Regions from separate parts of the Homo sapiens genome. Here regions 2 and 3 are each linked to region 1. Evidence: fine-mapped expression QTL. A gene starts in region 1. Each other region holds a variant in brackets. All regions are shown on one strand. Distances are between the middles of the regions. Region 1 holds the start of AKAP13 (A-kinase anchoring protein 13). Region 2 overlaps AKAP13 (A-kinase anchoring protein 13). Region 3 overlaps AKAP13 (A-kinase anchoring protein 13).

Region 1 (8,186 bases):
TAAGTGTGACCAACTGTAATTTTTAAAGGTTTATCCTCAATCTGTAAGTTTGATCAAATATAATTTTTAAAGGTTTACTATAATCTCTTCATCAGAAAACTAATGGAAAGATGGAATAAAATCTAAAGAAATGTCCTTAACAGGTAAATATTTCTAGAATGTATCTACTCCATCTAGGTAGTGTAAGTATTCTAAACTATGCTAGTATAACTGATTTAAATCACTGCCTTCTTCTGTAAATGGTGTCACCTTTAAAGTGTTATCTTGAAGAGGAAGTGAGTGATTTGCTCATGTCTCTGTACTGAACTAACACTGTTAACACCCAGTCCAGCTCTACCTTAAACAAGTTTGAGAAATACAGACACAATCCACACTTATTTGCCAAGACTAAGGTAAAATAAAGTTGGAACTCATATCCTCTTATGACTGATGTACTGAAAACAATCCATCTCTCACTGTTGCCCAAATAGCATAGTCACAAAGAGCTCTACCCTACCAAGCCACTCTGCAAGTCCCACTCTCAAAGGAAGACTCACAGGTGACTGAGAAGATAAACTCGCTATTGTTTCCATTATCCTTCAGTTCATCTGGCACCTTTGAAGAAATAGACTTCGATAAGACTCACAAGTCTCAAGGCCCCTTCTTTATGAAAGAAATAGCTAAACCTCTACACTCAGAAGCATCAGACTTTTAAGAATGCTTAAGTCATGTAAAAATGTACCAAAATTATTATCATTACAGCTACTAGGTAATAGCTGCCTACTCCATGTTAGATACTGTAGTTAAGTACCTCACATAGTTTCACTGATTCCTAAGAACACTGTTACTAACGCTTATGGAGTAGGAAACTGAAGCTCTGAGAGGCTATGCAACTAGTCAATGGAAGTGTGGAGATCTGAACGCTACCTAGTTCCAAAGGGTGTACTTTTTTCTAAAATTTCTAATTTTTTTCCAATTTCACAATGGAGGGAGAGTTGTGACTAGATTTGTCCAACAATTTTAATAATTTCACTGGCTGGGTGGAGTGGCTCACGTCTGTAATTCCAACACTGTGGGAGGCTGAGGTGGGAGGATGGCTTGGGTCCAGGAGTTAGAGACAACTGGGCAACAGTGAAGATTCCGACTCTAAAAAAAAACAATAATAATTTCACAAAAAGGGGGGGGCTGATTTCTAAATTGGAACCTCTTGTTGAAATCCTTAGAGCGCTAGTTAAACCCACTTCTTTTCAAAAAATAATTGACAGATTAAAAAAAGGTTAGAAATCCTTTTAAAGTAAATGTCATCACAGATCTGCAAGTGAACTGTCATTCTGGACAGGTCCCCAGTTAGTGGCTCTCTCCTGTGTACGCTAGCTACCACTAGGCAGTAAAAATAATTTACCCAATTCAAACACGTACCGTGCCTGCACTATGTTAAGACTACCGGCAAAGAGGGTAAAAAGCTAAATAAGGTCTATCACAGCCCTCAAGGAGTTAAAGGACTAGAGGAGGAGTCCATTTATAGTATAGTATGTGTGCAGTTACCATTTAGTCAAGGCAAAAGAAGTGTGAGAAATCCTAAAACAATAGTACCTACAGTATAACATGCCATCACCGCCCAGAGAAGGAAAGCAACTAGTGCACTCGTCACGTCATGTTGTAAGTAGTACTTGCTTACATTATGTCCCTCCCTGACAATCCCTTCCAACCTCTGTCAACCTCCTTCCCCACAATCACACACACAAAACCACACAACCAGGAAGGGAAGCCATGGAGCGAGTACTGTGAATCCTAAAAGCGGCTCTGTAATTTAAAAGTGCAATGGCTGTACCTGAAGAAAATTTGTCTTTAGCTTCATCAGGTGAAGAAAATTGGTTTTATAACACAAGGCCCACCAAACCAGAAAAGCCCAGGAACGCTTCTCCACAGGACTCACTTAGCACGAGAAATCACTCTGAGCAAACTGACACACACAGTATTTCTCAAATTTTTCTTTTTCATTTAGCAGATGGTAAAGGAATACAACTGAAGTTAACAATAAATGACACTCTGGCCATTTTGCTCCACTATGAATGACAGACATTTAAGCTAGTTCCATCTGGGGAACTGAAACAGAATCATGTTCATATAATAAGCCACACAAACCAAATTAAGTGTAATATGTGCACCCAAACTTGACAAAACTTGTACTTAATGCAGCCTGCAAATCCCCAAGAGTCCACGACAGAATACAAGAATAGTAACAATGATTTATCTCAACTGATCTTAGCTTCTTCACAAACTTGCCAATAATGACCTTTCAAGAACTGCACCGTTTGTCCTCATCTGCGCAATCCAACAGTTCAGAAAAACTGAAGAAAATGCTTCTTCTAAAAATAAAACACTTGTTGTGGGGGGGACTACTAACAAAAAAAAAGGCACACTGGTTTTTACTGTACTGAAGCAATAAACTCTCCAAATAACTTCATTAAGGAGTGTCATTAGCAAAGAATGAACACCAAAATACCGCTCAATCCAATTTTCATTGTGAATTCCGGGATCTAGAAAATTAAATGGGACGGTATCACTCTGCTATAAGAACTATTTCCAAAACAAAACAAACCTATCTACCCCCTTTCTTGATTTTTTTTTAAAAAGTTTTAGGGTTTTTCCTTTTTTCAACTTCACATACTTCGTGGCTTTGCAAAAAAAAAAAAAAAAAAAAAGCAGTAAACCGTATTTACCAAAAAAAAAAAAAAAAGTTTTGTTTGGTATCAAAGTATAGCTGCAAGCTGAGCCGGCTGGCTGCACGGGTCCCAGAGCGCGTGGGGACCGCACGGGTCTCCTGGGCCGCTCGCCTGCGACCCGCGCGGGTCAGCTGGGCCGCACCCCCGAGAAGCCGCGGAGAGGCACCGACAGGCAGGCGCGGCCCGACGTGTTTACCGTCCGCGTCGACCCCGGGGAGCCGCTCCCTCGCGCCCGCAGCACTTGTTCACGGCGCGGACTCCACGGCGGGGACTCCACACCGCGGCCGCCCGCCCCAGGGGAGGAGTGAGCCCGCCCCGGCGGCGCCGACCCGGGGACCCGGGGCAAGGATTCGGGGCCTCGCTGGGGGCGGAGCGCCTGAGGTAGCATCGGCGGCCGGGCGCGCCCCCCACCCGGAAAGCGGCGACGGCCTCTAAGTTGGGCTGCGGAGTGGGAGGCGCGCCGAGCCCCAAGCAGACAATGCGGGAGAAGGGCGATGCGCAGGGAGGAGGGGTCCGCAGACCTGAGGTCCCGGCGCCGCCCGGCGACCCGTCTGTCCAGCCCGCCCCCGAAACCCCCGCAGCCCCCGCCCCTCCTCCGGGGCCCGCCCCACCGAGCAACCGCAGGGGACTGGCCGCGCTCCGCGCCCCGACCCACAAATCACAAAACTTCCCCCAACTCCGCCAACTAAGTTGCGCTCTCACCGTGCGGCTCCCGGGGCTCCCCCGCGGGCCGAGCTGGGACAACTCTTCACCTTCGCCGCGGAGAAAGACAATAGGCGGCCGCTCCCCCGGAGGCGGCTAAAGCGGCGGCGACCGAGGCGAGCAATGGGCACGGCAGTCTCGGCAGAGCACAGGCGCTTCACCGCGGCTGCTCGGGCTCCGCGCTGGCCCTGCACACAGCTCCAGTCCGCGCATGCGCCGAAAGACGCTCGGGAGGGTGGGCGGGGCACGCGGGAAGGCGGTAACGCCTGCGAGTCCTCCCGTGAGTACACGCGGAGCAAGAACTGCGAGCTGGGATTGCACGGCAGAACTGCCCATCTCGCTGCATGAGACCAATAGTAAGGCTCCTGGACGGGGCACTCAGGTTGCTAAGGGAGGCTGAGGTTGACCGCCGCTGCTGCTCGGCGGCAAAGTGATCAAAGTAGGGTGGCTGGCAGAGGCTGCTCTGGGAAATGCCCACCCACGGTCTCCTCTCCGCCCTGTCTCCAGAAACCGCCCTTCCTCTGTGTACTGGTGGTTACCTGAGCTGCAGCACTTAACCACACATCGTGAAATGATTTACTCCTCTATTTCCCCCACTTCAACTCAGGAAGTGGGGTTTAGTCTTCTGTGTCCACAGCCTAGGACCGTCTAAGGTATTAGGTATTAAATATAGGTATTAAACAAGTGTTGGATGGATGCACGGCGCTATGGCGGAATCACAATTGTGACAGTGCATTCCGTGAACTTCTGGCTACTCGATCACCACAAAGTCATTCCGTGTTCGAGCTGCAAAGGACCTCAAAAATCATCTGGTTGCTTTGGGAAACAAAATGTGGTCCGTGTACCAATGGTGCCGGTAACCACCGGCCCACAGAGGAAGGGCGGTTTCTGGAGACAGGGCGGAGAATATATTAGTTGGTACACGAAGAAACTTCTTTTTTCAAATAGTTAAGTGTTTTTAGTGCGCATTAGGAGGGAAATGCCTATCACGTCAAACCACTGTTTCATTAATGTTATTTCTTAGGTCAAATAAAAAGTGGCAAAAAACGAAAGCACTTCAAGAAAAGTGTTAAGTAAAAAACTGAGACAATTTATATGCAGTTGAAGAACGTGTAAAACTAGTTGATAGTGATTGAAGTAAGAACAGCGGTTAGGTAGGAGGAGAAGATTATTGGCTGGGAAGGAGGAGGAGGGAACCCTCTGGGGTGCTGGTTCTGTATTTTGACCTGGGTGATAGATAACAAAAGTATATACATGAATAAAAAATACATCCAGTGCACTTTAGTGCACTTTGCACATTTTAAACATGTATTTTTAATGTCAGTTTTCAAAAATCTGGTACAGGATATTACCCCCCCGCCCCCAAAAGAAAAGCAAAGATGCAAATGACTGCCATTTGGGAAACACTGATCCAGGCGGCTCACTAGCAGTGACCAAACACCTGAGAAAGGGTATTGTGAATACCTGATGTGTGTGCCAGGAACTTCCATTGTTGAATAGCTCCAAATCTCAGAAATGCTCCTAATGTTGAGCTCTGGTGCTCACATATATTTTCTCTTTTTTTCTTTTTTCTTTTTTTTTTTTTTTTTTTTTTTGAGGCAGAGTTTCACTCTTGTTGCCCAGGCTGGAGTGCAATGGTGCAATCTCAGCTCACTGTAACCTCCACCTCCAGGGTTCAAGCGATTCTCCTGCCTCAGCCTCCCAAGTAGCTGGGATTACAGGTACCCACCACCACACCCGGCTAATTTTTTTATTTTTAGTAGAGACAGTGTTTCACCATGTTGGCCAGGCTGGTCTCAAACTCCTGACCTCAGGTGCTCCACCCACCTCGGCCTCCCAAATTGCCGGGATTACAGGCATGAGCCACCGCACCCGGCCCTATTTTCTTAAGTAACCCTCACCGAATGGCTTTAAAAAAAAAAAAAGAAAAGAAAAGAAAGGCCAAACATGCCCAGTTCTTCATGTGAAATTATTTCTGTATCACTTCATCATGCTGCTCACCCTCTTCCACTGTTCTCTAATCTGTCCTTGTTGATTTTTAAAAACTGGCACAAGGCCTGGCGCGGTGGCTCACACCTGTAATCCCAGCACTTTGGGAGGCTGAGGAGGGCAGATTGCTCGAGCCCAGGAGTTCGAGACCAGCCTGGGCATCAATTGAAACGCCATCTGTACTAACAAATACAAAAATTAGCCAAGCATGGTAGCCCAAATCTTAGCTACTTGGGAGGCTCAGGTGGAAGGATTGCTTGAGCCCAGGAGGCAGAGGTTGCAGTGAGCCAAATCATGCCACTGTACCCCAGCCTGGGTGACAGAGCCAGACCCTATCTCAAAAAAAAAAAAAAAAAGGCTGGCACAGAGAGAGAAGCAGCCTATCATGAGCCGGTCACTTCTCAAAGAACCTGAGTCTTCTGTGAAGCAAGAGTGCTAACCAAGAAAATCACTTGGACCCTAACATTTGATAACCCAGTGAACTTCCCCCTTAGAACCTAGCTTGTTTGTTTCAGAGGCAGCAGTAAATGTTACCATGTCATCTTTCTACGGACACTGACAACACCGTTCCCTGCTCCCCGCCTCAGCAGGATTTACACCTTTCCAGTGGGCTGCAGGAAAAGTTAAGAGTCTAGCACTTCTTGAATTTACTGTGCTTACAAATCACCTGGGAGTGTTTGTTAAATGTGGATTCTGATTCAGTAAGTCTGGGGTGGCATCTGGGATTCCGCATTTCTAAAAAGCTCCCAGGTGCTACTGACGTAGCTATTTTGAAACCCGACTTTTTTTTTTTTTTTTTTTTTTAAGACAGAGTCTCACTCTATTGTCCAGGCTGGAATGCAGTGTCATGATCTCGGCTCACTGAAACCTCCGCCTCCCCGGTTCAAGCGATTATCCTGCCTCAGCCCCCCAAGTAGCTAGGATTACAGGTTCACACCACCACACCCAGCTAGTTTTTGTATTTTTGGTAGAGACAGAGTGTCACCATATTGGCCAGGCTGGCCTTGAACTCCTGACCTTAGGCGATCTGCCCGCCTCGGCCTCCCAAAGTGCTGGGATTACAGGCATGAACCACCATGCCCAGCCTGAAACCCAACTTTGAAGGCAGGAGTCTACCCTAAATTCCCCAAACGGTTGAGCCCTCTGTCCTCCTTGGGAATTCCTAAATTGTTATCTGCATGGCTGATGTCGTCTCATCATTCAGGCCTCAGCTCAAATGATCCTCCTCAGAGAAACCTTCCTTGGCCACCCTCCCTAAATTGACCCACTCTAATCTAGTCCCTCTCTTGCGTATTACTCAGTTTTTTCCATAGCATTTATCTCAATCTGAAAGTACCTTATTTATCTTGTGTGTTTATTGGCTCCTCCCACTATAATGTAAGCTCCTTGAAGTATGCTGTGTTTACCCCCTCTCTCCTGCCCCTCTAATAGTGTCTGGTTCACAGTATGGACTCAATGAATTTCACATTAGTGAACTTGTACAGAAGAAGCTATTACAAGGAGCCTTCAAACTGAGTGTCCCTGATACTAAAGACTTGTTCTTCCAAGGTGTACCAAATATTTCTACATAGTATGCCATATTTCACAGAAAGAGGTTGCAGGTTTAATCATTTCCTCATGTACTCTCAGTAAGTTCGCAAGCCAGGAAAGATGCCTTACTAAACAGTGGTGGGGTTTTGTATCTCTGAACTATCTCTCCATTGACTTATATATCTTCCCAACTGATTTACACAGGTTCTATATAATACCTAAAAATATAACAAGAATAAATCCCATTTTACAGAGAGTTCCTGGCAATGCCAAAGCAAAGAAAAAACAAAATTAACACAGTTAAAAGAGCATAAATTTCTCTTGAAGCTCACACTGTCTAACCTGTCCACTTTGATAATAGAAGCACTGGAACAAGTATATCCCAGTGTTCCTTCACAGCAGTGGACATTGTATTGCATTTGTGATAGAAATAGTGTCCTGATCATGCTTTGAGAGCTTCCACTCTCAGCTCCTTGCTTGGTGTGAAGCCAGCTCTACCACAGCCCCAATTCCATGGCCTCAGCGTGGAATCCAGACCTGACTCTCCTGATGTATCCTATCCACGGGCAACGGTGACTACTTCCAGACTACTCTGCTGGAACTAGGGTCTTGTTTGACTGGAATATTTGTCTCCCTTAAATGGAATCTGGAAGGATATACCTGTCAGCCATCTTGTCACCACAAAGAAAGAACCTTTAGAATGGAACTGGAACAACGGGAAGTAAACAGAGATGAAGAAAAACAGTGTCTTAGTGACACTAGTTGAACTGCTGAATCCGGCAATGTAGACTTTTCAATCCTGTAGGCCAATAAAGCCTGGCACAGTGGAGGTTTCTGTCACTTGCATCCAGAAGAGTTCTAATTGCCACACCACCCATGAGCTGATGATCCCTGGCCAATTCCCTGACAAATGTCTATTGAGAGTTTACTGTGTTCCAGGCATTAGTCATGGTCCTGGGGTTATAGGTGAAGAAGAGGTTACTGTCTTTAAGAAACTCACAGTCAATTGAAGGCAGGCAAACCAGGAAGAAATCAAATGTGTAGGTGCCTTTAAAGAGGCCAATGGAGGGTGTTATGGGGAACAGAGAGGAGTATTTCTCCTAGTTAAAGGATGAAAGTTTAGGAAAGACATCCAAGAGGATGAGACAGATAAGCTGGGTCTTGGAAGACAATCAGGCAGATAAAGAACAGTGGGGTAGTGCAGGAGACTAGGGTGTGTGTGCACAGATAATAGAATGACCTTTCTAGAAAAGGGAAGAG
Region 2 (8,186 bases), 160 kb before region 1:
AATTAACTAGCATTCAATATGTAGTTACAATTTTAGGTGATTTATATACAATGAAATACATATGGTATAGTATACCCATTTGATAAATTTTGACAAATGCATATACACGTGAACCCAAATCTGTACCAACATATAGAAAATTACCAATATCCAAAAAAGTTCTTTTGTGCCACTTTCCAGTTAATCCTCTCCTCCTCATTCAGAGTTAACCATTGTTCTGAATTTTTCACCTACATTAGTTTTGCCTGTTCTACAACTCCATATAGATGAAATTATAGAATATACACTCTTGTGTAAGGCTTCTTCGATGAGCATGTTTGAGATTCATCTACATTGCTGCATGTAGCAGTAGTACATTCTCTTTTACTGCTGAGTAGTCCACCGCATGCATATACCCCCAGTTTTAGGTATTCTCCCATTAATTTCTCACACATTTTTATTTGATTCAGGGGTCATGTGAATTAGGTTTGTAGAAGAGGCCAAGGTGCAAAGGGATAAACGAATATATGAATTTAGTTTCCTTTAGTCTGTGTTGTTTTAAGAGCATGAAAGCTTCCATCACTGCTTTCTTCCTTTTGTGTTTAAACTGCAGAGCTCAATCATTTAGGATCAATCTCTGTTCCCTTTTCTCTGCATCAGTACTCCTCTGTAATCTGAGTTACTCAACTTCATTTTTTTAGATCACTAATGGCCTTTCCTACAGTGTCAACTGAGTCCTTTGTCCCCAGTGTGAATTAACTGTGCTTTAGGATTGTGGATGGCTGCATCATTTTTGCCAACTCACTCCCCTTCCATCCTTGTCGTCATAATAATAGCTTTGCCGCAGATGTAATTAAAGCCCCTAACCAGTTGATCTAATAAGGGAGGTTATCCTGGATTATGTGGGCAGGATAATCCCACTGCATCAACTGGAAGGCTCTGAAAGCAGGTCTTAGATTTCCCCTGGAGAGAAGGGATTCCATTCCACCTGTGGAGGACAGCACTAGCCTGTGCCTGTGGAGCTCCATCCTGCCCACGATCTTCCCTTCCTCACGTGATATTTTGGCCCATGTTGGTGGACTGACTTTTGCCCATGATCTTCCCTCCCCCTCCTGCCCTACAAATTTTGGACTTATTAGCCCTCACAATCAAAGGCGCCATTCCTTGTAATAAATCTCAACATATTATTTCTCTTAGTGGTTCTGCTTCTCTACTTGAACACTGACTCATAAAACCTACTTTTCTCCTTGCTGTCTCCTTCTCTAATTTCATAATAAACCTGATTTTATTGAGCTCTTTAAAGGGCAAATGGGAAATATCATCTACATTTTTTTGTTTCTTACAGAAAGCATACTCAGAAAATCTTCCATCTGAATACTTATGATACTTTTCCCTTTTCTTTATGCTGTAATGTTATTCCATAGACCCCATGTTGGCTGGTTATCCTGTTTAACCATACTTAATTGGAAAGATCTCTGTAGGCTTAGCCTCTACCCACAGAGAAGGAAGGCAGAAAATGTCTCACATCCTGCTTTCTATTTACTTATATGCTGGACACACCTGTCACACACCTTCCCTCAGATCTGCAAAAAAGTTGATGTGCCTAGTAGGCATTCAAGCATGATGAGCCTGCTAGAGGGTTGTATCTTTTATAAATGGTCAGATTCTCTAAGTAAAATGTTCTAAGTTCTGAGATCAGTACAATAATCAAGGACTACTCTCCTACCCCATCAATCCCCCCAGCAAGCCCAGCTTACAGTACTCTTTGAATCTATACCTATGATTCCAAAATCACCATTCTTTGTACTATTCTGGACTACCTCTTAAAAAACCTAAAGTCCCACATGATGCAGGAATTCTCAGCTGCATGTGAAAGGAAGGAGAACAGGCCACTGTGAGAAAATGCAGTTGTGGAAAAATGAGACCTGTAACCTTGTAACAAAAACAAGGTTTCAGAGGCAACAAAACCTTTTGGAGCTCAAGTCCTACCACTACTAGTCTTGGGATCAATAAATATTAATCTTCTGCCAAGGGGAAAAAAAAACCACTAGCAGTTTTAAAATATGTTGTTATTTTCTTTTCAGCAGTGATGACAGCTGAAAAAATACACAAACACAGGCCAGGCACAGTGGCTCATGCCTGTAACCCAGCACTTTGGGAGGCCGAGGCGGGAGGATCATGAGATCAGGAGATCGAGACCATCCTGGCTAACATGGTGAAACCCCGTCTCTACCAAAAAATACAAAAAATTAGCCTGGCGTGGTGGCGGGCACCTGTAGTCCCAGCTACTCAAGAGGCTGAGGCAGGAGAATGGTGTGAACCTGGGAGGCAGAGCTTGCAGTGAGCTGAGATCGCACCACTGCACTCTAGCCTGGGGGACAGAGCAAGACTCCCTCAAAAAAAAAAAATACACAAACACTAATGTAGCTACGAAAAAATATTTATGAAAAGCTATCAAGGCCGGGCGCGGTGGCTCAAGCCTGTAATCCCAGCACTTTGGGAGGCCGAGGCGGGAGGATCACGAGGTCAGGAGATCGAGACCATCCTGGCTAACACAGTGAAACCCCGTCTCTACTAAAAATATAAAAAATTAGCTGGGCGTGGTGGCGGGCGTCTGTAGTCCCGGCTACTCGGGAGGCTGAGGCAGGAGAATGGCATGAACCTGGGAGGCGGAGCTTGCAGTGAGCTGAGATCACACCACTGCACTCCAGCCTGGGCGACAGAGCGAGACTCCGTCTCAAAAAAAAAAAAAAAAAGAAAGAAAAGCTATCAAACACTCTGAAAGGAGGTGGGAACTGAATCATCAAATGATTATGGTGGGCGACCTATTAACCAATATCAGATGTATAGAATTGGGAATACACAGGCTGTTCTTACTGCAGTTTTTCCTAAACCTGTCTTCCACCTCTCCACCCAAATTTCTCTTTGAGGGGAGAATTCTTGCCCCCAAAGATGATCAGATCTCTTTTTCACTTGGTTATACAATATCATGAGTAAATAAGAATGAAGATTCCCCCAGGATGTTTCTCCCTGCTTCCTCTAGAGCAAGTCTGCAGTGGGCCCACCCTACATTACCTGGGAGTTATGCTGACGGCTACTGCACAAGGGTCTCTCAGGGAAAACACCCCCCTAGCTTACCATTTTCACTAACCACCGAGCTGAGAAACTAAGTGAGACTTGGAAAACTCAGAGAAAAAAATGTCCTTACCCCACCATTCACGCCACACCCAGATGAATCCTTATCACCTGCATTTAAGGCAGAACTGTGGCAAACAGTACAATGTGTAGAAGCTTGTTTATATAATTAGGGATGAGAGAACATTTGGAAGATTTAAAAGGACAAACTCCCTCCTGTTCATATTTAAAGTGAAGATTAATTTTTGTAACAAGTAAAACATCAATGTTTTGTGTCTCCAAATGGTACATTCAAAATGAATAGCTTATAAACTAGCACACATTATCAGAATACACTTTCCCCCATTTCACAGATGAGGAAATTAAGTAACAGAGAGATTGAGTATTTTGCACAAACTCTTGCAATGAAGCCAGGATGCAAACAAACTGACTCCAATGCCCCTGCTTTTCCCACTTTGTAAGAGCAAAGTTAAACCCAGAATTCTTAACTTTATGCTCATGCCTGAAGTTCAGGGAGACTTAAGAAATTTATCATATGTAAATGTGTGCACATAGGCACCTATAAACATTTTTTTCTGAGGAGAAATCTGAGCAATTTCCAAAGGAGTCACTGACCTGAAGAAAGCTAAAAAGCACTGCAACTAAACAATTAAAACAGTAGGAGGATTAGCCATAAATCTTACATAAACTACTTTGTCTAAGTATTAGGCTAGAATATCTCTAAACATCCTAGCTTTCAACAGCAAGAAGTCCTGTTATGTAACAAGGTGCCTTATTTACCTGTATTACCTCAGGCATCATGGTTACTTTGTACCTTTCTCCTTTAAATACCTATTTAAAAGTATTTATGTGCAACTCATTGATGTGAACAGACTATTCCATTACATTTGTCCCTCAACAGCAGGCGTGATGAACTCTTAACTGATGCTTCTCTCCCTTACTGTACCCAGTGTTCCCAGATTCTAATCATCAATTAATAGAACAATTTAAACTGCAGAATGTGAACTGAGCACAGAAAATCAGATTCCTCATCCCAGTTGTTGACTTAAAGACACTTCTATCAAGTCACTTGCATGCATTTCACCTTGCAAAGTATACAACTTACACAATTTCTTTTGTTATTTTATTATTTTAAATATATGTACAATAAAATTCACCTTTAGGGGATGTACACTCCTATGAGTTTTAACACATGCATAGATTCTTACAGCCACCACCACGAACAAGACAAAACAACTCCAACAACCCAAAGAATTCCCTCATGATACCTCTTTCCAGTCAGACTTCCCCCACTCCCAGCCCCTAGCAACTACTCATCTGTTCTCTTTTTCTATAATTTTGCATCTTCCAGAATATCATATAAATAGAATCACATAGTATGGAACCTTTGGAAACTGACTTCATTTTCCCGCATAATGCATTTAAAACACATCCAAGTTGTTGCACATGTCAACAGTTTGCTTCTTTTTATTGCTGAGTAGTATTCCACTGTATGGATATATTATAGTTTGCTTCTGTATTCACTCAGTGAGGGAAATCTGGGTTATTTCCAGTTTTTGAAGATTATGAATAACATTACTATGAGCACGTCCGTGCACAGACTTTTTGGTGACTACAGATTTTCATTTCTCTAGGATAAACACCCAAAAGTGGGATTACTGGGTCATACGCTAAGTGTATGTTTAACTTTACAAGAAACTGCCAAATATTTCTAGAGTGGTTATACATTTTGCATTCCTACAAGCAACATATGATATGTTCTTCATCTTTGCCAGCACTTGGTATTCTTCATCTTAGCCATTATGATAAATGTGTAATGATATCTCATTGTGGTTTTAATATGTATTTCCTTCCTCAAGTGTTCAAATTTGGTTTGGCCTTTGTTAGCACTGCTTGAGCAATTTTGTGCAACAGAAAATTTAC[CAGTACA/A]CTGACAGTACAAAAAAAAATTAAAGCTGGCCAATTCCCTCCTATTAAAGACAAGGAAGTTAAGGCCCAAAGAGAGGAAGTGGCCGGGCACAGTGGCTCACGCCTGTAATCCTAGCACTTTGGGAGGCTGAGGCGGGTGGATTGCCTGAGCTCAGGAGTTCAAGACCAGCCTGGGCAACATGGTGAAACCCCGTCTCTACTAAAACACACAAAAAAGCAGCAGGGTGTGGTGGCATGTGCCTGTATTCCCAGCTACTTGGGAGGCTAAGGCAGGAGAATCGCTTCAACCCAGGAGATGGAGGTTGCAGTGAGCCGAGATTGCACCATTGCACTCCAGCCTGGGCGACAGAGCAAGACTCTATCTCAAAAAAAAAAAAAAAAAAGAGAGAGAAAGAGGAAGTGATATGTCCAAAGTTTCAGATGTTTGCTTTTTCTAATAGTTGTTTTTAATCATGGCAACATAAAACTATCCAACTCCTGGGCCCCTCTTTAAACAAGACAAAACAAAACCATAAAACACCATAAGCCCCACAAATAACTAATGCAGTACTATCTTGACACTGATTTGTGAAAGGCAGCCAGAATAAACATTCCTGTATCAATACAGAAATAGGAGGAGCTAGAGGTATTAAGGCCCATCACCAGGTTTATATAAGGCATGAGTGCCTTTTCAGAATGTCAAATATTCTGATCTCTAAATATTAGCAAGACAGAAGTTTCTTGGACACTATACTTAAAAAAAGAAGAAGAAAAGGATAAATCCTTTCTTCCTTGATTTGATACTTCCTTTCAGGTTTTACCTGGGCAGGACTATCCAGGTAGAATCTGACAGTATGCACCTGACAGTATGGGACACCGTTCTGACGGCTGACCACAGGTTTAACTGTTAAATTTAGTGTAGATTTAAGAGAATCAAAGCTGGCAAAGACCTCTTTACCATTCTTCCATGGAAGAAGACAAAATTCATCTGAGTGTAGAAACTAACTATGCTATGGCTCAGGCCCCTCTGGGTATTTCTCCTCAGGAACTGCTCACCTGTGGGGAGAGTGACTTGTGGTCTGCTTACCCAAAATAATTCAATACTCAAGGCTGGGTGGACTCTACAGGGCAATGGTGTGACTGACCAGCTCTTTCATTGAAGACATAGAAAGTACAAGCAGACCCTTCTGGCAGGAGCTCTAACATCAGGCTTCCAATCTAGATTTCATCAGTAATAAACATTTTGGTTTCTATCTCAGGACTCCCAAATCGTTCAATTGGACTTGAACTCAGAAGGGAAACTGGATGTTACTTATTGAACTCCAGGTACACATTATGTTTCATTAAAAAATATCTATACAATTATGACATCAAGTAGATGTCATTGGCTACTAGAATTATGTGGGAAAACCCTTGTTTGAGTAAGAGGACTTACTATGTAAATATTTTTGAAAAAGTGGAGTTCTGGCCGGGCGCAGTGGCTCATGCCTATAATCCCAGCACTTTGGGAGGCCGAGGTGGGTAGATTACCTGAGGTCAGGAGTTCGAGACCAGCCTGACTAACACGGTGAAACCCTGTCTCTAATTAAAAAAAAAAAAAAATTTGCTAGGCATGGTGGTACATGCCTGTAATCCCAGCTATTTGGGAGGCTGAGGCAGCAGAATCACCTGAACCCAGGAGGTGGAGGCTGCAGTGAGCCGAGATCATGCCACTGCACTCCAGCCTGGACTACAAGAGTGAAAGCCCGTTCTCAAAAAAAAACAAAAAACAAACAAAAAGTCCTTTCTTCAGTGAACTCTCATAGGGAGGGCCAACAGATAAAGTCAGTAAGAGTGACACTAACCTGGTTAAGGAAGTGTGTGGTTTCTCAGAGCACACCCTGTTCTCATGCTCCTCCCACTCACTGCCCAATCTTTCCTCTCCTTCACTTCCAGGCTATCTTTAGAGAACTTCAGAATACAATAATGAAAACCATGTCTTTGATCATTAAACACCAAAAAGTAACTCTGCTACTCTCCTCATGAAGAGCATGTCACTTTCTACACTTGAGAGATCAAATCTGAAATCCAGACCCACAGGAAGGTGACGTGCCACTCTCCTTGGGTAATCCCTAGGGTCATTTCGCTGCAACAACATGCTTAACAGCTCAATTGAAGAACCTAGAAGAGATGCCATTGAGGCCACTTTCCTACAGTAATTCTAAGATTTACGCAGCCTCTGTGGAAGACCTGAATATGATGACCATAGAAAAGTAGCCCCATTAAAAAAAAAGTAGAAATATCACAAACTTAAAGTGTGTTTGTAGATCATATAAATTCTCACCATGCAAACTCTGATCTGTCCCCAATACATTCCACTCCGTGGGCAGCTTCAGGTGCCTGAATGCCAGCACCAACTTCTTATCAAGGGAATTCACATCCCCAGATGGGGGTCCTGACTGGTCAAGAAAACGGGTAAAGTTCAAAGCCTGCTGATTTCCAGCACTGGTTGCTAGGAATTGAGCTGCATCATACGCTTCATCCTGGACGAAATGAAAGTCTTCTTCAGCCACCACAAACACGGGAAGGCCCTCTTTGGAAGCACAGAGCTGCACCTTCACTGTTTCACAACAATCATGACCTAAAGGAAACACAGGCAGCAAATAAAACAGTATTAGAGCCTCACTGCTGAAAGGACGCTAGTGGATCCTCTTAGCTCTTATTTCACGACATACAAATTTCTCCTCCTAAAAAACACCCCCTCCTTCCTCTTGAGCTCTGACAGCATTTTTCCAAACTTCTTAAAACTCCATTTTCAGCTTTTAACATTATTTGCAAATATGAATTCCCTTAACAAAAAACAAAAAACTTTGTATCCCAGCTTTCACCATGCCTATAACATGGTATCTGGAACCGAACAGGCTCTGAATGTCAACAAGGGCTATTCAATTTGAACATATTTAAGAATGAAAGCTGAAGGACCTTCAAGGCATAGCATATGATGGAAAGTCCAATAGCTACTGAACTAAATTAGATCTGAAAACATAACAGGAAAAAATATCACTCATACAAGTTATATAGCAAGAATTTTACAGATTCACTAGCACTTGCTTTATTATCACGATACAAAGGCTCACATGATGAAGCACTTGGAAAAGTACATAATTACTTGATTTTATTTTACT
Region 3 (8,186 bases), 190 kb before region 1:
TGGGCACTTACAGGGTTCCATCATCAGACCATTCCTATCTACCTACTGAGCCTATTGTAAAAGTTTATATGTACAAGTGTAAAATGTGTCATGCTTGTTAAAGTCTTTCTAGTAGAGTGTACAAGCAAAATGGACTTTCACTAAAAGCTTCTGTGTTAGGCTCCTTAAGAGTATTCAAAATTAGCTTATTTCCAGTCCTGCTGAGAGTACGACAGTCTCCTAAAAATCAGGAAATGAAGTCATTAAATTTAATAAATGGTAAACATTATAAAACAGAAATCTGGCGAAACAAGTAGTGTTGCCTAAAGAAAGTAGCACATGTATGTTCCCACAGTTTTAATTTCTCGTATTTGCCTGCCAACCATTTCCATATCTTGGCAGGTAGCTTTGGTACCTGCAAAACTATATTTTCAAGTGAACTACCATTCACCTAGTAAAAAGAGCTCTAAGGAAAAACCTGATTGCCTAGAAGTCCATTCAGAGGAAAATGAAATGTCACGTGCTCTGGAACAAACACAATTCTAAAACACAAAAGTGGGAGCATCACATAACCCTATGGAATTTCTTGGCTTGCTGGTCTCAAATAATGCATGCTCCCAAAGAAGCCTCTGGCATTGAGCTGACCTTAAATGAAATTACTGTCCAGTGGTTTCCAAATCAAATCAGCTCTGAAATAAACTGGGTGGAAAAATTACCTAAACACAGCCTTTCAGATGTTATGCCCAAGAGAGATGTACACATATGACGTTTATGTTATTCGTAATAAATGCTAACAGGGAGTCTGTAATGTTTTTATGTCTGGCAACAACTTTATCTTGAAGACTTGAGTGGATTATAAAATCTTTTCTGTTTTTTTTAGCTATCTTTGTACCATACAACTATTGATTTAAATATAGTAACACTATATTTAAATGGTACATATCATCGCCACTAAAATAGTTGTAAAAATACTCCTGATTAAATTTGGTTCTTGTTCTTTGGCAACAATCTCAGAAACTGTTGGTTCTTTCATTTTGTAAAGTTAAGCCAAACACAGACAAATATCCTTTTATGCCAGAAATTTAGTTCTAGTTGTTGCATATTTCTGTACCTGAAATGTGTGTCTTCCATTATTCCCAAAACCAATGAAAAAAACCTCTCAGTCCCCCTACGGCTACAACCTTAATGCTAGCTCTGATCTGTAAGTGGTAACATTTAATACTGCTAATACTGCTTTACAGGTCTCAGAATCTTTGGGGAAAGTCCTTCTTTTTCTGTTTTTGAGACAAGGTCTTGCTCTGTCACCCCGGCAGGAGTGCAGTGGTGTCATCTCAGCTCACTGCAACCTCTGCCTCCCAGGCTCACATGATCTGCCTGCCTCAGACCCCCAAGTAGCTGGGACTATAGGCGTACGCCACCATGCCCAGCTAACTTCTGTAGAGCCAGAGTTTCTCCATGTTGCCCAGGCTGGTCTCAAACTCCTGAGCTCAAGTGATCCACCTGTGTTGGCCCTTCCAAAGTGCTGGGATTACAGGCATGAGCCACTGTGCCTGGCCAGGAAAGTTTTTTTTTTTTTGAGACGGAGTCTCGCTCTGTTGCCCAGGCTAGAGTGCAATGGCGTGATCTCGGCTCACTGCAAGCTCCGCCTCCTGGGTTCACGCCATTCTCCTGCCTCAGCCTTCCGAGTAGCTGGGACTACAGGCGCCCGCCACCAGGCCGGCCAATTTTTTGTATTTTTAGTAGAGACAGGGTTTCACCGTGTTAGCCAGGATGGTCTCCATCTCCTGACCTCGTGATCCGCCCGTCTCAGCCTCCCACCAGGAAAGCATTTTTATGTTCTAATTATATCAAGGTTCATTGGAGGAGGGCGGGGACACACACATACAAAACACACACATACACATGCATATACTTAAAAATAAAAGCTTTCTGACTTACCATTAGTTGCTGTTGGATGTTCATAAGTTTAAAAATTGGTCCAGTGCAACCGTCTCCAGGAAATGGGTGTTCATGATGTGAATCAGACTCAGAGGTTAATGTATAGATGTCCAACTCTCGATGATGCCTCACAGAACAGTCTCCATACGGTATTTCATAGGATAAACTGCTCCAGGAGTCTGGTTCTCCAGCATTCTCCCTACATGCAAGCATCTCTGGTTAATATATATACATTCTGCCTCCCAGGCATAGGCTTAACGTTCTAAGTCTTACTTCGTATTTCTAACCTGATTGTTCTTTGAGGTTCAACAGCAAAAATTAGTATATATACCTCCCAAATGATTCAGGCATATAACCAATAGCTCCATCCTCCTCACAAGAGATCACAAATGGGTTAAATGAAAACTGCAGGACTCCTAGCCCTAACAATGTTCTTTAGATCAAGATAAAGAGATATGTGGGATCTAATAATAGTTAATATTATGCTAACAACCAAGTAATGAGGAAGTGCAAGGAAGATGGTTTTAGCCTGATTTTCAACAAAATCAAGGCTTATTAAGAGGTGCTCTTAAAATAAATTAGACCATATGCTAACTACAGTCAATTATAATGGCAAGAGAAGAACCACTCACTCCAACCCTTACAAGGGCACTCCAACTTTTCTAACAATAGGTGCAGAAAACACCCTCAAGATTATTGAAGTCAATTACACAAAGAAAAACTGTTACAATGACATATTGTTCAACACTTGTCAATATAATTATCATATCCTATTTGGAATAAAGCACTTGGTTCCAAGAACTTAAAGTTAAAATTCGTAAAATTTAAAAAACAAGCAAGTTTGCTCAACTCATATCATTATAAACAAATATAACAACTTTCCACCATTATACGCCAACTGATTTGAACAAGGCAAGTGGGTTTCTCCTCTAAAGGCTACAGCACCTCCAATTCCACCCTTGCATCCAGAAGGCATACCCATGCCCGTAATGCCTGCTGTGATACCACACATAATCTGCACTGTGCTTTTTTGCAGCAGATGAAAGAATCTTGGGGCATACAATAAACAGGGATGAGGCACACAATCATACCCCACACAATCTCATATTATTAACTATTGTACTTGAGCACGCATTTCAAGTGTTAAGCACCCTCTTCTACATTCAGCACAAATGTAAATGTCTGAAGTCCTAACCGTTGGTGTCACTATTCTTTCTCATTAGTTTGATACACAGTGTGGTATACAGAGTTAGAGATTTCTGGGTACAAAATTTTATCTCCTAACTATATGATGCTAGACAAATTTCTTAACTTTTCTGAGCCTTAATTTCATAATATGCAAACACAGATATTATAATCTAAGCACTGTTTTGAGAATTAGAGAAAATGTGCATAAAAAACTACATCTATGGTGTTTGACACAGAGAAATCACACACGGATACTGCCTATTCTTCCTCCTTCTACTCTTTCATTCATTTAAAAATAATTCCTAGTAAGCCTTCCCTTCTTAAAAGTAGAAAAACATATCTACTTTTTTCTATTTTTCTACTTGTATCAGAAAATCCTACTTTCTCTGAAAGCTTTAAACATAATGAAAACACTCCTCAAACAGCATTCTGATAAGGTGCCTAGCAGCTCAAAGATCAGGCACAATAATAGATTATGCTTTCCATCAACCCTTTCCTCCTTATATGAAATGTTATTTTTCCTTTCCTTACAACATTAACACCTTTGAATATCCCATATCATATCATATTTATTTATTTATTTATTTATTTATTTTTGAGACAGAGTCCCGCTCTGTCGCCAAGGCTGGAGTGCGGTGGTGCGATCTTGGCTCAATGCAACCTCTAACTCCCAGGTTCATCGATTCTCCTGCCTCAGCCTCCTGAGTAGCTGTGATTACAGGCGCGTCCCACCACGCCCAGCTAATTTTTTTGTATTTTTAGTAGAGACAGGGGTTTTGCCACATTGGCCAGGCTGATCTCGAACTCCTGACCTCAGGTGATCCACCCACCTTGGCCTCCCAACCTATATCACAGTTATTATAATCCCACCAAAGCAAACAATAGATTGGTAAAGTATCCCTGAGATTTTGGGAGGAAGGTTATATTTGAGATCATTATCATGTTTTGAAATAGAAGAAACTAAAGAGTTAAGAAATTACAGACATGCTATCTAGCCACTGAAAAATATGAGAAAGATTACTTCAACTGTCTCTCCAGTTTTTTCTACTAAGTCACACCTGTCTGTCATTAACAATTCACCTGAGACTAATTGGAATTTTAAAGCTAAAAATATGCTACAGTAGCAGCCATAAAAAAGGATGAGTTCATGTCCTTTGTAGAGAAATGGATGAAGCTAGAAACCATCGTTCTCAGCAAACTAACACAGGAACAGAAAACCAAACACCAC[A/G]TGTTTTCACTCATAAGTGGGAGTTGAACAATAAGAACACATGGACACAGGAAGGGGAACATCACACACCGGGGTCGGTCAGGTGGTTGGGGGCTAGGGGAGGGAGAGCATTAGCAGAAATACCTAACGTAGATGATGGGTTGATGGGTGCAGCAAACCTCCACGGCACGTGTATACCTATGTAATAAACCTGCACGTTCTACACATGCATCCCAGAACTTACAGTGTAATAATAAAAAAAAAATTTTTTTTTTAATGCTACAGTGGAAAACGTATAAGGCAATGGAAAATCATGTACTGGCTGACGGTAATAATAATAAAGTGTACTCCAAAAACTACTATTACAACTTCCATACCCAAGAGTGGCTCCCCAAAAGCAGCTTAAAATAAGAATGGCATATGCTATACTACATGTTTTACATATTTTACTAAGTTGCTATACTCTGAGTGAAATGACCTCAAACAGAAAAGCACTTGTAAAATACTCTCGACAGTTCAAAGAAACGACTCAAGAAGTCAAATAGCGGGGAGACAACTTCTCTATCAATGTAGCTTTCAAGCCTACATTGACATAGTCACTAACATGCCTTATTGTGTGGCAGACATTAGTGGCATATCTGCTTAATCAGATTATCACATACAGCCATATTCCAACAAAAAAGATCTCTGAAAACAAAACCTGCTTTATATACCACCACTGAGCATGACCCAAATATAACAAGATTAGAGGACACTGTTTGCCAAGGCAGGAGCAATTAAAAAGTGATACAGTCCATTCTCCATGAAATGGAGTATTCTACCAACCTTCTCAAAATTAAATTTGAGAATTTAATTCTCAAACTGTTCCATTTCTAATATCTAAACCTTGGGAAATCCCTTTCTCTAACCACAGCCTACTTACCTTCTACCTCTCCCACTCTCACCTTCCAGAGGAATGTGCTTTTGTTGTCACAATTACCTCCAGGTACTAACCCTTCAATCTCCCAATTCATGTCCCTGGGGACTTTTGTTGCTTCCTTGTCCCTCTAGATACTAAAGATCAGTCATTGCAAGTATCTTCCCACTGGCTTCCATGAATATCTGTTGCTACTGACACTCTTCCAAACTCATTTCGCCTACAGGTCTGGGTAAGTCCCATCATCCATTCATTCAGCAAGTATGTATGTGCCAGGCACTATTTAAGGTACTGGTGAAGCAAACCAAAATCCCTGTTCTGTCGAACAAGGGAGACAACAGCAATCAAGATAAATAAGTAAAACACCTAGAAGATAGCAAGTGCTACAGAGATTAAAGCAGGAATGAAGGTTGCAATTTTAAATGTGGTGGATCAAGGGTGGCCTCATTAATGTGACATTTCAGAAAATACATTTCCTGCTCTGTGTTACCACCGTATAAAACCTTTACTGGGTCCACTAGTAAAATCTCGCAAAACTCTATGCATAAGAATGTTTACTGCAACTTTTGGCACAACTTCATTAAAAACTGGAAGCAATCTAACCAGTTAGTAACTGAAGCGCTGATTGGTAAATTAAAGAACAGATCTATAGACTATTATGTAGCCATTAAAAATAACTGAAATAAAAGTTCAATAACATTGAAATCTACAAAGTCCTGTGAAATAAGCAAAATAAAAAGTAAAAAAAAAGTACATAAGTCTAGTCTGTAAAACGCACAAATATAAAAAGTATCAGCGTGGTTGAGATATACATTTTACCAATCTTTTTAATAATTGCTTCAAAAGTTCCATTCAGCCAGGCCTCATTGCTGCTCAGTAATCCTTTTACTCACCTGTACACTAATCTTCCCCCACTGGGATTAAAGTTTATATAATTTCCTCTAATGCCAAACATTAACCTTGCCTACTTCATTCTCAAAAGACCTTTTCTCCTTTCTCAGTGATAAGCTTGAGGCCATCTAATGTAAGCCAAAACAACTGTCATTACAAAAAAAAAAAACAACAACAACAATGCATTTCCCCACCCTCTCCAACTTCAGGATACCTCTTCTAGACCGAGGTTTTGCTCTGTTTCTTCCTGCCCTCCTTGGGTCCCTGCTTCAGTAAATCATCCCCTGGCTGCCTGTGGTTTTCCACCCACTTCTGGACTAGCTCCTTCCCCACTCCAGCGGTAGGAATCCTTATTCAACCCTGTCGATCAGTTCTCACCCAAGGAATATGGCCCCCAGGGGACATTTGACAATAACTGGAGGCATCTTTGGTTGTCACAACTCAGGAGTAGGAGGGGATCCTACAAAGCACAGGACTGCTCCCTACAACAAAGAATTATCAGGCCCAAACTCGGTAGTGCTGGCATCGAGAAATCCTGCTGAACGCACTGAAACATGTTCTGTCTTCCTCTTCCTCTTTCCTTCAGGGAGTCTCACCATCTCTACCTCCTTTCCAGCCATTTCAACATTTTAAGGCTTTGTGGTCTGGCTCCTACTCACTTTGGTTTTTGTTTTTTGAGACAGAGTCTCGTTCTGTCACCCAGGCTGGAGAGCAGTGGCGCGATCTCGGCTAACTGCAACCTCTGCCTCCCAGGTTCAAGAGATTCTCCTGCCTCCGCCTCCCAAGTAGCAGGGATTACAGGGCGTGTGCCACCACACTTGGCTAATTTTTCTATTTTTAGTAGAGATGGGGTTTTGCCATGTTGGCCAGGCTGGTCTTGAACTCCTGAACTCAGGTGATCCATCCTTCTCTACCTCCCAAAGTGCTGGGATTACAGGCGTCAGCCACCACACCCGGCCTCCTACTCACTCTGAATGCTACCAAAGCTTTGTCACAGGTATCCAGTGATAAGTAAATATCAAAATCCAGTGGTTTTTTTTTTTTTTTTTTTTGAGACGGAGTCTCGCTCTGTCGCCCAGCTGGAGTGCAGTGGCACAATCTCGGCTCACCGCAAGCTCCGCCTCCCAGGTTCACGCCATTCTCCTGCCTCAGCCTCCCAAGTAGCTGGGACTACAGGCGCCCGCCACCATGCCCGGCTAATTTTTGGTATTTTTAGTAGCAACGGGGTTTCACCATGTTAGCCAGGATGGTCTTGATCTCCTGACCTTGTGATCCACCTGCCTTGGCCTCCCAATGTGCTGGGATTACACGAGTGAGCCACCACACCCGGCCCAGTGGCCTTTCTTTATCCCTGTCAACCCTGAGTTTTGCAGAATTTAAAAATGTTGATCTGGCTGGGCATGGTGGCTCACAGTTGTAATCCCAGCACTTTGGATCACCTGAGGTCAGGAGTTCAAGGCCAGCCTGGCCAACATGGCGAAACCCCCTCTCTACCAAAAATACAAAAATTAGCCGGGTGTAGTGGCGTGCACCTGTAATCCCAGCAACTCGGGAGGCTAAGGCAGGAGAATCGCCTGAACCCGGGAGGCAGAGGTTGCAGTGAGCCGAGATCGATGCATTGCACTGCAGCCTAGGCAACAAGAGTGAAACTCTGTCTCAAAAAAAAAAAAAAAAAAGAAAAGAAAAAAATATGTTGATCTGATTCTTCTTTTAAAATGTATTCTTATTTGCCATCCACAAAAATCCATCCTATACATCTACTGTTTTCCCTGGCTCCTCTTCCTCATCTCCTAGAGGTGAACACATCAATTCTCTGCATTCAGTCCTCTTCTTTCATCTATCCTTTCCCACAGCCCCAATTCACCCCCACAATCTCTTTCTCTTGACTCAAAGTCTCTCTTAGTTCTGCACCAACACTTCCAACTACTTTATGAATGTCTTTACCAGGGTGTCTAATGGGCACCTTCAAATTTCAAACCTCAATTTTATGTTACTCCATAATCAAAAGCAGCAGCAATGCCAAACCTATTTCCATTTATGAAACCACTGTTATCCCTAGCAATACCA

What was found. PIP is the estimated chance that this variant, and not a neighbour inherited with it, causes the effect.
Region 2: its variant is fine-mapped to the expression of AKAP13 in whole blood (GTEx, PIP above 0.99).
Region 3: its variant is fine-mapped to the expression of AKAP13 in lung (TOPMed, PIP 0.95).

What each region holds. Positions count from the first base shown.
Region 1 is chr15:85,376,020-85,384,205 of GRCh38, reverse strand. It overlaps AKAP13 (A-kinase anchoring protein 13), which reads right to left and starts at 3,603. Exons shown (of 37, transcript NM_007200.5): 1 at 3,408-3,603. It overlaps MIR7706 (microRNA 7706), which reads right to left and starts at 3,610; the gene lies at 3,544-3,610. LOC124903546 (a long non-coding RNA gene) reads left to right here. Exons shown (of 3, transcript XR_007064747.1): 2 at 96-143; 3 at 471-530. RefSeq lists silencers at 2,899-3,066, 2,723-3,292, 3,673-3,752.
Region 2 is chr15:85,533,040-85,541,225 of GRCh38, reverse strand. AKAP13 (A-kinase anchoring protein 13) reads right to left here. Exons shown (of 37, transcript NM_007200.5): 4 at 7,346-7,642. Among named protein-coding and RNA genes, the nearest start is that of AKAP13, 160 kb to the right of the region's middle. RefSeq lists an enhancer at 7,117-7,196. The variant CAGTACA/A (reference allele first, on the strand shown) is at 5,038.
Region 3 is chr15:85,569,061-85,577,246 of GRCh38, reverse strand. AKAP13 (A-kinase anchoring protein 13) reads right to left here. Exons shown (of 37, transcript NM_007200.5): 6 at 1,918-2,116. Among named protein-coding and RNA genes, the nearest start is that of LINC02883, 190 kb to the left of the region's middle. The variant A/G (reference allele first, on the strand shown) is at 4,334.